3 separate regions of the Homo sapiens genome follow, and regions 1 and 2 are each reported to be linked to region 3. The links are microRNA targets in miRTarBase. Many come from high-throughput screens and were not tested one by one. Region 3 holds a microRNA gene; each other region holds the end of a gene's coding sequence.
Evidence for each region. Region 3 holds the annotated microRNA hsa-miR-181b-5p (AACAUUCAUUGCUGUCGGUGGGU, at 1,494-1,516, opposite strand). A microRNA usually pairs through its seed, bases 2 to 8, with sites in the 3' UTR of a target mRNA and lowers its output. Matches are read on the target gene's strand: a 7mer-m8 pairs with bases 2 to 8, a 7mer-A1 pairs with bases 2 to 7 and ends in A, and an 8mer does both.

Region 1 (4,000 bases), not on the chromosome of region 3:
AATGCTTCTGTAAATGCCTCTATTTGTCCAGTTGGCTGAAAATGTTGTAATCTTTATTAGACAAATATATATATATATATATATATATATATATATATATATATTTAAATATTGGCTTTTTCCAGTGAGCTATTATGTTTAGTGTACAGTGAAAAGTTTTAATATTATAGGTTAAAATTTTCTTAATCGTTCTTTTCTATTCGCTTGCCAAGGGTGAATGAAAGAACATGGCTGCTTCTCCCAGACTGACTGACCTTGGCATCCGCATAAAGCATCATTGTTTTCAAAAATGAAGGGTGCTTAATTGTTCCCTTTTTTCTATATTCTGTAGGTCTCATAACAACAAACTGCAGTCTACAGCTTCTTAAAGTTCAGCGTGTTAACCTAACATAAAACACAGCAAGAATCTGGTTGTCTGAACTATTTTAAATTAAGGAGCCAGATGTTTTTAGTCAGGCTATCCTGACAAGACTTGACCTAAACTTCGTTTTTATTGGTCATAACAGTCCAATTATATTCTTGGCCAATTTTGTCCAACGGACAAGAAAAAAGCAAAGTCAACGACACCATTATCTTGTCAAGATCAGATGGTTTTACTATTGTGGCAGAAGCGAGAAAACTTTGTTTATTGAAAAAAAAAGAAAAAGAAAGCAAGAAAAAAAGATACTATGGGGTCAAGTGTAACTCCATGGAAATGCCACGTCTGCTCTTCAGTGAAGAAGCTGGTTTAGAGTCTCACAGAAAACTTTTGACTGTATTTATTTATTGTTGCAAAAAAGACGCTTTTTTATTGCTGCCCTCATTTGTCAGCTAATTATTTTTTCTTATAAAATCCAGCCCCGGTTACATATAATCATCTGTATCTTATCATGATTCCTGTAGGTAAAAGTACAAGACGACCTCTAGATGTCTTTTCTTTCTATGAAAGGAGCTGCTATGTACACATGTGCACACACACACAACTGGGAATCAACAATGAGTTTATTGTTCATGGTAGATTAAAATTAAGCTTGCATAAAGGTTGGGCTAAGTGGTCCTGGACTACAGACTCTGTTGCCTTGAATATAACAGTACAATTTGTCAATTACTCTGCACCAGGCTAAAATGAGTAAAATCTATTTGAAGGTATCTTGTTTGTAAACATTTGTCAGATTCTAATTTTTTTCTTTTGTATTAAAATTCAACTATGGATGTATATGAAACAAAATAAATGGAGATAATTTTTCTCCCACAGACAGAGGTGTCTTTGAATGTGCGCTAATGATTATCTGTAAGCCTTTGTGGGGAGGGAGGCCTGCAAGGTCATGAAAGGCAGAAGAGTCTAATTGTGCCTGGATTTCTCCAGGACAGCAGTGGCCCCTCGTTTTATCATTCCCAGTCCATTGTCATCACGTCAGAGAAAAATCTTCAGGGGTGCTAATCCTGTTGCATCAGTTGATCATACTAACGAGAACGGTAATGCGACAAGATACACATTGCCTTCATCTGTACATTCTGTGATACCAGGCAAATTACCAATTACACACAGCTACTTATATTTTATGAAGGGCATTTTTTAGATGACCTCATCCTCTGTGTTATTTGTTGATTGGGTTTGTTTTCTGTTTGTTGGTTTGTTTGTTTCTTCCACGTAAGGAAAAGTAGTGTAAACAGTAGCGAGAAAATGGAAACCACAGAGGAAGATGTATTTTGCATGTTTTTCCTTTCAGTGTTCTTACACGTTGTATCACTGCATTGTGGTAATAGCTTCTATAAAATCTGCCATAGTTGGATTATGCAGCTTTGCAAAAATTTTTACTAGATTTTGCACTAACTCATATTAGCTTTGTCCTACCAACTTCTGGAATTTATCTAATTATTGTTTTTCAAAGTTTCTTTCCTTTTAATGTTTCCCTGCTATGCAAAACCTTTCCCAGACCTCAGTTTCTTAAAAGAAAGATGTTGCTACAGTTCCCGATTCTTTCTTATTACAGGCTCAGGTGTACAGGTTATTCTGGGTTAATTTTATCTAATGAAGCCCATTCCTTTTTGTACATAAAGATGTCACTTAAACTTATGCTTACAAACTAAAGACTAATCGCTCAATATGAAAACATGAAAAAATTTTTGCTTAAAGTATTAAGATGGAAGTAGTTAAATATGGGTTATTTTGTCCTTTTACTTTTTTAAAAAATGTTACATATTGTATGCACTGTGCTGATGCAAGAATTCTACATTTTAATGAGTTATAAAATTATTCTGCATCTCATCACGTCACAGTATTTCTGTACTATTTATTCATATATATAAATATATATGGGCTTAATCATTTAAAATTTGTTGCAGCAAGAACTTTCCTACCTGTAGGCAATAGATTGCTATGTTTTTAACAAATTGTGGCAAATTCTAAACAGCAATTCTTTTGTACGTAATAGGACATTTCATCCTAGAAAAATAAAGTAATGTTTTTGACATTGGATTTGGTGCAGTTTCTAATGAAGCAATGGTTGGTTGGTTAATATGTTTTCTATAGCTGTTAGCCTTGCCAAATTGTACAAAAAGGATAAATTTTATGGAAATCTGAAACCAGGAAGATGTTAATTTCATATGTGTATTTAACGGTATAAAGTGTTGTATAGTTTCTATCACCATACAAATACATAGACATTTTATAGTTTCATCAACTACAGAGCTTTAGTCCTTCAGAAGTAATTTTTGAAAAACATACTTCTTTTTTTTTTTTTTTGAGATGGAGTTTCACTGTTGTTGCCCAGTCTGGAGTGCAATGATGCCATCTCGGCTCACCACAACCTCTGCCTCCCGGGTTCAAGCAATTCTCCTGCCTCAGCCTCCCAAGTAACTGGGATTACAGGCATGCGCCACCACGCCTGGCTAATTTTGTATTTTTAGTAGAGACAGGGTTTCTCCATGTTGGTCAGGCTGGTCTCGAACTCCCGATCCCAGGTGATCCGCCTGCCTCGGCCTCCCAAAGTGCTGGGATTATAGACATGAGCCACCACGCCTGGCCTGAAAACCATACATTCTTATAGAACATAATGAATTCCAAAAGCTGCTTTTCTGTGACAAGCAGAAATCTTTGACAAGCTTCTGCTATTCAGAAAGATCTACATAATACAGCTATTTTGCTTCCAATAATTCAGGCAGTAAACTGTACATTTGTGATATTCTTAGGATGTTTCTACCCCAGGCCTTGGGCTTATAAATACATTTAATTTGCATCAATAGATTTCCTTGGCTAAAAGTATTTTCAGTACCTGTTATACTTTACCTGCCAAGTTCACAATCCTTGAAACCATTTCATGAAAAGTATTTTCCTATTGGTAAAGCTTTTATTCTCCTATCCAAATTCTGCAGGAGGTTTAAATAAAATTGTGGCTGGGCATGGTGGCTCACGCCTATAATCCCAGCACTTTGGGAGACTGAAGCAAGTGGGTCACTTGAGGTCAGGAGTTGGAGAGACCTGCCTGGCCAACATGGTGAAACCCTGTCTCTACTAAAAATACAACAATTTAGCTGGACAAGAGGCACACGCCGGTAGTTCCAGCTACTCAGGAGGCTGAGGTGGGAGGACAGCTTGAACCCGGGAGGCAGAGGTTGCAGTGAGCTGAGATTGTGCCACTACGCTCCAGCCTGGGTGACAGAGCGAGACTCCGTCTCAAAAAAAGTGAGCTTTTGGAGATATTTTCTGAAGGAAAATAATTACCTTTTTATATTTCAAATGGCCTAGAGTGTTATTTAGAGACACTAAGATTTGCTGTTGTTTGTAATCTACCTTCCTAGGATCTGCAAATAAAAGTTACTTCCCTATTTCTGTTAATTCCTTTAGGCAAACTCTCTGCTGCTTTATGTTAAAGAGCCAACCTGGTGGCCTTTCAGATCTCTGCACACTTAGACAAAGCTACATGGTTATTACAGCTTTCGCTCTTCATGATTGAAGCTATTACCGTAGGTCTCAGACTTCTTGTCCTTAATGTGAGAATGGTGATATTTCATGGATAAA
Region 2 (4,330 bases), not on the chromosome of region 3:
CCTCCTGTCGTCCCGCTCTGGCTGAGCTCTTGTCTAGGTGGGGAGGATGCACCCAGTGCCCTCCTCCCAAGTGTCCAGCCCTGTGTGAGGCCCTGAGCTGACTGAAGACACAGAGAGGAGGAGCTGGAGTTGGGGTCGGGTTGGGTGGTCTGCATGGCTTCCCACCTTGTCAACGCTGCCCCCATCTGTGTGTCTGACGCTGCAGCAGATGCCGACCTGGCCGAGGGGCCCCCTCCCTGGACACCTGCGCTCCCCTCAAGTGAGGTGACCGTGACCGACATCACCGCCAACTCCATCACCGTCACCTTCCGCGAGGCCCAGGCAGCTGAGGGCTTCTTCCGAGACCGCAGTGGGAAGTTCTGAATCACCGTTTTTACTCTTCTTAAACTGTTTTCTTTTGGGCTTGGGGTGGGACTTCCAGAGATAGGGATGGGTTGGGGGCGGGGTAATTATTTTATTTAAAAAAATACCGAGCAGCAAAAGGGGAGAAGATCCCACTACTCTCCCACCACCTGCCCTTTCTCTGAGGGACGTTTACCACGAGGCCTCAGGCTGGGGATGGAGAGAGTTGCTCTGGGAGTTGGGGTACCACCCCCAGGGCAGGATGGGGACAGGATCACCTGCCCGGGACACCACCATTATCATTCTCCTCTAGTGACGCAGCAGCTGGTTCTGGGAGTTAAAGGAGCATTGGAAGGCCCAAACCCTCTCCCTTGAGTGGCCACCCCAGCCTGGTTGGCTGGTTTTCCCCTTTTCTCTTGTTTCAATTGGGTCTTTACCTTGAACTCTCCTCTCTGGCTTTGCGGTGGGCTGTGGAGGCTGGTTTTGACCAAAAGTGAGTGGGGCGGGAGGAAGGGGCAGGAGGAAGGGTTGAGGTTACTTGGGGCGAGTCCCTTCCCCTTCAGAGAGGCTTCTATCCTTCCCAGGGAGGAGGCGCCGCTGAGACCCTTCTGCTGAGAGCTCTGCCCTCCCCTCATCACCTGGCCTGTGCAGAAACGCTCATGCACACCTGGCTGCACAGGTGTGCACGCATTACCCTTCGCGTGTACGTTCCCATGTGCCCCGTGAAAGCATGTGTGGCTGCAGACGTGTCCACATGGGCCTTGCGAACCTGGGTTAGAAACCCTGGCCAGGCGAACGTGGGGTGATTCACAGCACAAAAGACCTCACCACCACACCTGCACTCACCCCACCTTGCATGCACCTTGCTACCTGCTTGCGGCTTTCAGTGGAGGGCAGGGGTCTGGCACAGGTGCGATGGCACCCCATGCTCCAGGCATACAGATGTGGTTTCTCGGCTGCACCGGGCCAGGCTGCGGGTGTGCAGGCGTCTGCTAAGTTGTGTGATGTATCAGCACAGGCTTTGAGACGTCTGGACCCTGTCCTTCCTCCCGTGAGGGGTTCTTGTTCTTTCTGACTCAGGTGACTTTTCAGCCCTTCCAATTCCCCTCTTTTTCTGCCCTCCCCTCCAACTCAGCCAACCCAGGTGTGGGCAGTCAGGGAGGGAGGGAGTGTCCCACCACGTTCTCAGGGCAGCCCTTGACTCCTAAGCCCCTTCCTCCTTCCATTCTGCATCCCCTCCCCATCCAACCTAAATGCCACAGCTGGGGCTGAGCTGTATTCCTGTGGAGGGACCTCTGCCGTGCCTCTCTGAGGTCAGGCTGTGCTGTGTGATGGGCAGGCTTTGCCCCAGCCCACCCCTGGCAAGGTGCACTTGTTTTCTGGTTTGTACAAGGTGTCCTGGGGGCCCGTGGCTTCCCTGCCAGTGAGGAGTGACTTCTCCCTCTCTTCCAGTCCTGTAGGGGAGACAAAACCAGATTGGGGGGCCCAAGGGGAGCATGGAAAAGGCCGGCTCCCCTGTCTTTCCTTGGCTGTCAGAGTCAGGGTAACACACACCAAGAGTGGAGTGCGGCCAGCAAGTTTGAGACCTGCCCGCCCTCCTCGCAGCTCTGCTCTGTGTCCTCAGGAAGTCACAGAGTCTACTGAGGCAAGGAGAGGGTGATTCTTTCCCCAAATCCCTTCTTCCCTGGTTCCCAAACCAAAGACAGCCTGCAGCCCTTTCTGCATGGGGTGCTCTGTTGACAGGCTTCCCAGATCCCTGAGTCTCTCTTTCCTTCCTCCTCGATCTTTAGTTGTCCACGGTCAATTCAGTGCTTCCATTGGGGGACAGTCCCCTCCGGGATGACCTGATTCACCTCCAGCCCAGGGAATGGAATCTAGAGGAATACGTGGGGTGGGTCTGGACAAGGAGCGGCAGGAATCACCACCCATCTCCAGCTGTGGAGCCCTGTGGAGGGGAAGGGGAAGCTTGGGGTTCAGAGGGGACTCTTCCAGGAGAGGGGTGCCCAGCGGAGGTAAAGATGATAGAGGGTTGTGGGGGGTCTCTAGTTGAATGTTTTGGCCCATGACTTTGGAACATGGCTGGCAGCTTCCAGCAGAAGTCACGCTCCCCATCCCCCAGGGGACATAGGACCTTTTTCCTGCTTCCTGGTCACTTTCAAAGAACTATTTGCGCAATCTGTGGGTCTGTGGATTCACGGGGCTTTCTGTGTGGGTGCTGCAGTTGCTTTTGTCTGCAGCAGCAGGACACATCTTTCCTCTTACTCAGCCCTTTATGGCCCATGGGGAACTCCGTGGCTCAGGGAGAGCTGAACTCCAGGGGTGTGACCTGGGACGGGTGGGCCTGAGGTGCCCAGCTCAGGGCAGCCAGGTGGCTCATGGGCTGTAGTGAGCCAGCTCCCTGGGGGAAAAGGCTGTGGGCCGTTAGGACCATCCTCCAGGACAGGTGACCTCTATGAGGTCACCTACGGCTGTGGCCGTGCAGGCCTCCTTCCAGCCCAGAGTGGCCCAGTAGAGCAAGGCAGACAGTGACCTCCACCCCCGCAGCCCTCTTAAAAGGCCAGTACTCTTGGGGGTGGGGGGAGGGTTTAGAAAGCATTTGCCCATCTGCCTTTCTTTCCCCCAGCCCCCACCCGCTTTGAATGTAGAGACCCGTGGGCACTTTTCCTTTTGTGGTGGGGGGTGCGGAGGAGGTACCCCCACCCCTGGCACAGCCGCCTGGAATGCAGGACTGTCACTGCTGTTCGGGTGATGACCTCGTTGCCAAGCTCCTCCTGTCCCCTTGTTCTGGGGGCAGGCGCTGTGCTTCTGTGAGGTGGTTTAGCTTTTGCTTTCGAAGTGGCCAGCTGCGGCCACCAGGTCTCAGCACAAGAGCGCTTCCTTTGCACAGAATGAGCTTCGAGCTTTGTTCAGACTAAATGAATGTATCTGGGAGGGGTCGGGGGCACGAGTTGATTCCAAGCACATGCCTTTGCTGAGTGTGTGTGTGCTGGGAGAGTCAGAGTGGATGTAGAGCGCGGTTTTATTTTTGTACTGACATTGGTAAGAGACTGTATAGCATCTATTTATTTAGATGATTTATCTGGTAAATGAGGCAAAAAAATTATTAAAAATACATTAAAGATGATTTAAAAAAAAGAAAATTCCTGGGCATTTGATTATTCCTTCTGGTGGTTGTCAAGTGCATCCGTCCACCAACAGACTTTGTGCGAGCAACAAGGCTGTTTATTTCACTTGGGTGCAAGTGGGCTGAGTCCAAAAAGAGTCAGCCAAGGGAGATAGGGGTGGGGCAGTTTTATAGGACTGGGGTAAGCAGTGGAAAGTTACAGTGAAAGGTGGTTAGCTATTGTCAGCAGGGGAGGGGGTCACAAGGTGCCTGTTGGGGAGATCATAATACTCATTGTCCGGAAGAAGGTCACCAGGTCGATCAGTTGGGGCAGGGCAGGAACAAGCCATAATGGACCTGCAGGCCATCTGGATGTATATGTGCAGGTCACAGGGGTTACAATGGCTGAGCTGCAGCTCAGAGGCCAGACAGTGGTGTCCCCACTGTGCTGAAGAAAGAGCTTCAGCCCCTGGCAATGCCTGGGGTTTAGGTCCCAGGTCTGCTGGTCACCGGCCATAATCTCGGACAAGTCTTTCCCTTCGCTGAGACCCCAGATGGACAGAGAATTCACTGAGGTGACGGGAACAGGAAACTGCGGGTGTCTCTGGGTGAGGCCATCACCATGGTCCGTAGTGTGTCATCAGAGGCCTGGAAGTGCTTCTGGCACCTTTTATCTGCTTCTCCCCAAGAGTCCTTTATTCCAGAACCTTGGAGGGGTGAGCATCGCAGGTCTCTGCAACGGCAGATTCCGGATCGCAGGACTGTCATGGGGCTAACGCTCACCTACTGTGTGTTCAGCCAAGCTTAGCACACACATCTGAACGTTGAGACAGGTGGTCAGAGCCAAGGGCAAGTCCTGGGAGCACGTCTGCATTTCAGTGCATC
Region 3 (4,358 bases):
GTGAGAGAGGAGGGGGATATCACAGGGGAAGAGATGTCCCAAGCAAGGCAGGAGGCTCACGTGAGACAACTCAGGGCAGAATCCTACGCATTCATAGGCTATAAACAAGGAAGTGGAGGGAATAATCACATGGACTCAAGCTTCTCAATGAAAAACAGAAGTCAGTTCATCTGTTGAGAGTGGAATCGTGGAAAGGAGCAGTTGAGGAAAGAGGTAAACATTTAGGCTAAACATGAGGGAGTGGAGTAGAAGAAATGCTGGGTCAGAGTTGAGGGACTGAGGCACTTGGAGGCCCCTGAGTATGTGTATTAATGTGTCCATATGATGATGTGATTTTATTTTTCAGCAACACTGATATTGAAAGGACAGTTGCCTTGGAGATAAGAGAATGAGAAACTAGAATGGTAAGAAGTGATAGACAGAGTGGGATATTAGATATCGAATGTGGTAAAATATTTTAAGGTTATGATGAGGTCAAGAGCCGGGTCCCAGCAATGGGTTTCTGTAATGGGAGTTAAAGGCAAATGGGATTTAAAAGATCAAGGAAAAGAAAGGATAATTTATTTGACCATTAAAAAAAAATGAACATTGAAGCCATCCAGGTACTCCAAACATAGACACTTGAGAAAGCATTTTATTTTGCTATATAATTATTATCATTACAAATGGTAAACTTAAAACTGCTGTGATCAAATTTAATGACAGATGTCCTATATAAAAATGCAGAGGCAAACCACTTAAGAAAAACCATGATATGCATAGGCTTTTACTTGCAAAGTCAGATGAGTAAACATGAGGCAATTAATGGGCCATGACTGTAAGTCTAACCACGCAGTTCATGCACATAGAAAGTGGGTAAAGTTTTAAAGTGGAAATTGAATTGGGAAAATCAATCTACTATATGACTGTCATGAGTGTTCTGATAGTTATATAGTTATGTATATATTATTTTCTTCGTATTTAGCATGTTACATAGCAAGAGGCAGAATTATATGAGCAAATCCTCACCCAGAGAAGCAGAAAGCTAAAATTATCTGGTGTTTCTATCCCACTTTGACCAGAACATCTAACAAAAGTTGTAAAGAACACATATTTGTAAGTGTGTTATTGTCAATGGCATGGGTGCTGAGGTCCTACTTTATGTCTTTTTTTCACTCACACTACAACAGTAGGAAGGTGAGCTAACCTAGATGATGATACTGTACGTTTGATGGACAAAATAGTTTTGCCTTTTCTAAAACATGCTCTGTTTATAGCATACAAAAGATAGAGAAGCATTATTCTTGTTTAAACCAGAGTCTTTTTCATTGAAATCTCATCACATGATATAAATTGAATAAATAAACCAGAAGATGCTGACGAATTGGAAAACTTAAAGAACAATAGTACTATTTTGAACACATCTTTCAAAGATGGAATATCTGTTGATTGTGACAGCAAAAAGCGGGGCCACAGTTGCATTCATTGTTCAGTGAGCTTGTCCACACAGTTCAACCCACCGACAGCAATGAATGTTGATTGTGACCTTTTAAAAAATAATCTCTGCACAGGGAAGAGAAAGTCCTGGTGTGTCCACCTTTGGTTTCCTGTCTTCAGCGAATTCTGAGCACCATGGAGTAGATGATGGTTAGCCATAGGGTACAATCAACGGTCGATGGTTTTGATTTTAATTCCAAACTCACCGACAGCGTTGAATGTTCACTGAAGCAACCTCAAAACTCAGAATTCTACTCACTTTACAGTATCTGTAAGTATCTGAAGGGGATGGGAGACAGAAACAACAGTACCTTTAGTCATATATTTTATGCATTTTTATGCCATTTCAAAAGACTACAAAAGAAGACAAATAAGAAGCATGATTCTTCCAACAAAGAGTTTGGCAAACCTCCACATCACATTGTATGAGAGAAAAGGATCGGTTTCATTAAGCAAAAACATGGCCGATATTGGGCTAGTTCCAGAGATGGAATTATCTCACTGTTAAAGACAGGGACAATTTGTTATTCAAAGTACTTTGTGGTATAAAATCCAAACAATATCTTATAATTTAAATATTGTTACGCTTATAGTAAGCAAGCATTATGTATATAGCTTATACAGAAATTAAACAGAATTACCTTAGATTTCCTCAAATTGGCATTGATGATATCATTTATATTTACATTATATATTTACTATATTTTATTCTAAAATAAGGTTTTAAAATTAGTATAACTTCCTAAGAACAATCTTATTTAGAAAATGCTGAACAAATTATAAGTGAAGAAACCAGCTCAATACATTTTTCTTAGTTTATGGCACAAAGAGTTCATGAATACAGTGAAAGGTAAATACAATCTATGTATGCTACAAAACCGTTCATTTCCTATTATTTTAAATAACATCTAACATCTAACATCTCTTTATGGGTAGATGGGTGAGGGATTCTTTTCATAGTCTTATTTTCTAAGACTGTTTTATCATTAATGCTTATTTTAAAATTATTATGAACTCTACTGAATTTATTTTTAGAGCCATTTTCAATAATTTTCTACCATCAATTAAAACAAAAGTCACCTTGGATGTATCTAAACCAGAATAGAAAGTCATTATTTCACACATTTAAGTTGCATCTAATATGGTTATAGAGTAATTATCTGTAGGAGGGACAACCCACAATAATTTGGAATGCTACTTTGAAGGTGATAATGGTCTATTCAAGTCAAGGCAATTACTCTCGAAATGTTAGTGAAATATGTATCCCAAATTTTTACACATTCTTACATTTCAGTCACTTAGAATTATTTTAAAGCCAATAATTGTTTAACCTTTTAGACAAACTATTTACATGAAAACTTCAACAGATTTTTTTTGAGAGAAACAGGGACTAGAGATCAACTGGAAGTAAATTTTAAAGTGACAAATAGGCACAGAATATGAAACAGTGATGTATCTGAATTTTGCATTGTTTAATTCTTTTGAAAGAAGCAAATTTCTCCCACAGAATAAAACCCTAGAAGAATGCTTTATCAGTAGGCATTTCTGTGTTGCTGCTGGAAAGAATATTATCATGAGACTGAGGATTCATTTGTTTGCATTATCAATTACGACTGAAAGCATATCACTCCTGTTCTGTTGCCTGCCTATTGTGGTATTAGTGTCAGGTCAATATACAACTGTTTTCAATCATGCCTATTCATCTCTTGCTACATCTGCTAACGTTTGTATAATAGGGATGTTGTGATAAAAGACTCCATGCTCTGTATTTTCCCTTAACACAAAATGCATTTGGCCTACCAGTAAGCAAAGCTCTAGGTCAGTTACAAATAATTAAAAGGCATAACTATGTTATCTTTTGTTTTCCAAAATATTCTCCTAGAAGTCTTTGGAAGAATACAATTAACTTAATCCTAAAGTTGTTACATTCTTAGAATAAAAATCTTAACTATAATTGATTTAACATTAAAATTCTTAAAAATCTTATAATGATTCACTTGAAACAATAGAAGTTACATTAAATGTCTTGTTATTTACACATAAAATAGCAATGATAAATAAAGTGATTAATTATTTTTTCTTTCCTTGGGCTAATCATAGTCATAGTTTGTTAAAGATAAAACCTCATATCTTAACAGTTTAAATCCTCCACAATGGAAAATAGGATCTCTGTGTTCTTGCTTCCAATTAATCTAATGTCAGAGAAGATAGTAAACTTTAGGCTCTATATTCTAAATTATTTCGAGCAATACAGAAAAATCGTTCTACTTGTTGGTGCAATTTAGTTTTCTGCTCACTTATATGGTCTTGCAATTACTGTCATGTACCTTCCAATCCTATATCTTTTCCATCTTTATTTTCACAACTTAATCCTTAGTTATAAATCATTTATCTTTAAAATATTAAGATGCAATGGTACTGAGATTTCACATTTTCTGGCAATTTTTTAGAACACATTGTTCATAATTCCAGAATTCCAAGTTGGTGGTAGCAATATGCATTCTTGCATAGTTTTCCTTGAATGAAAAAAAGTCACAAGCAATAGGTCATTAATGCATAAATACTCTCTTATCCCCCTCTTCCTAATTTTGGAGGGCTGTGTGGGTAGGATAAAACCAATCTAATTTGCATCAAAGCCAAATTTATTGTAGCTTTCATTTCTCATCCCTAGGCTTGTGGGAACATTAAGTATTTCAGTTTTGCTTAAGGTTAGTAGGTCATAAATAAACCAAAGCAATTTTTTTGCTTTGTGCAAGAGGGTCACGAAATACATGAAATACCACTTTTAAACAAAGCAAACCCTAACATGAATTGACAGAGGAACATAAAAAAGTAGTGCAATGTGCCTCAGTAAAAAGCCATAGGGATTTGGGATGCTGAAG

Region 1: miRTarBase lists BPTF as a target of hsa-miR-181b-5p. Seed matches in the 3' UTR shown: 7mer-m8 at 1,248-1,254.
Region 2: the mRNA of CBX7 is a reported target of hsa-miR-181b-5p. Seed matches in the 3' UTR shown: 7mer-m8 at 2,390-2,396, 8mer at 2,979-2,986 and 8mer at 3,259-3,266.

What each region holds. Positions count from the first base shown.
Region 1 is chr17:67,981,921-67,985,920 of GRCh38, forward strand. It overlaps BPTF (bromodomain PHD finger transcription factor), which reads left to right. Exons shown (of 28, transcript NM_182641.4): 28 at 332-2,458. The coding sequence ends at 368. Among named protein-coding and RNA genes, the nearest start is that of C17orf58, 13 kb to the right of the region's middle.
Region 2 is chr22:39,129,924-39,134,253 of GRCh38, reverse strand. CBX7 (chromobox 7) reads left to right here. Exons shown (of 6, transcript NM_175709.5): 6 at 206-3,482. The coding sequence ends at 363. Among named protein-coding and RNA genes, the nearest start is that of CBX7, 21 kb to the left of the region's middle. RefSeq lists enhancers at 1-627, 2,267-2,828.
Region 3 is chr1:198,857,432-198,861,789 of GRCh38, forward strand. MIR181B1 (microRNA 181b-1) reads right to left here and starts at 1,551; the gene lies at 1,442-1,551. All of the region lies in intron 2 of MIR181A1HG (MIR181A1 host gene), which reads right to left. It overlaps MIR181A1 (microRNA 181a-1), which reads right to left and starts at 1,722; the gene lies at 1,613-1,722.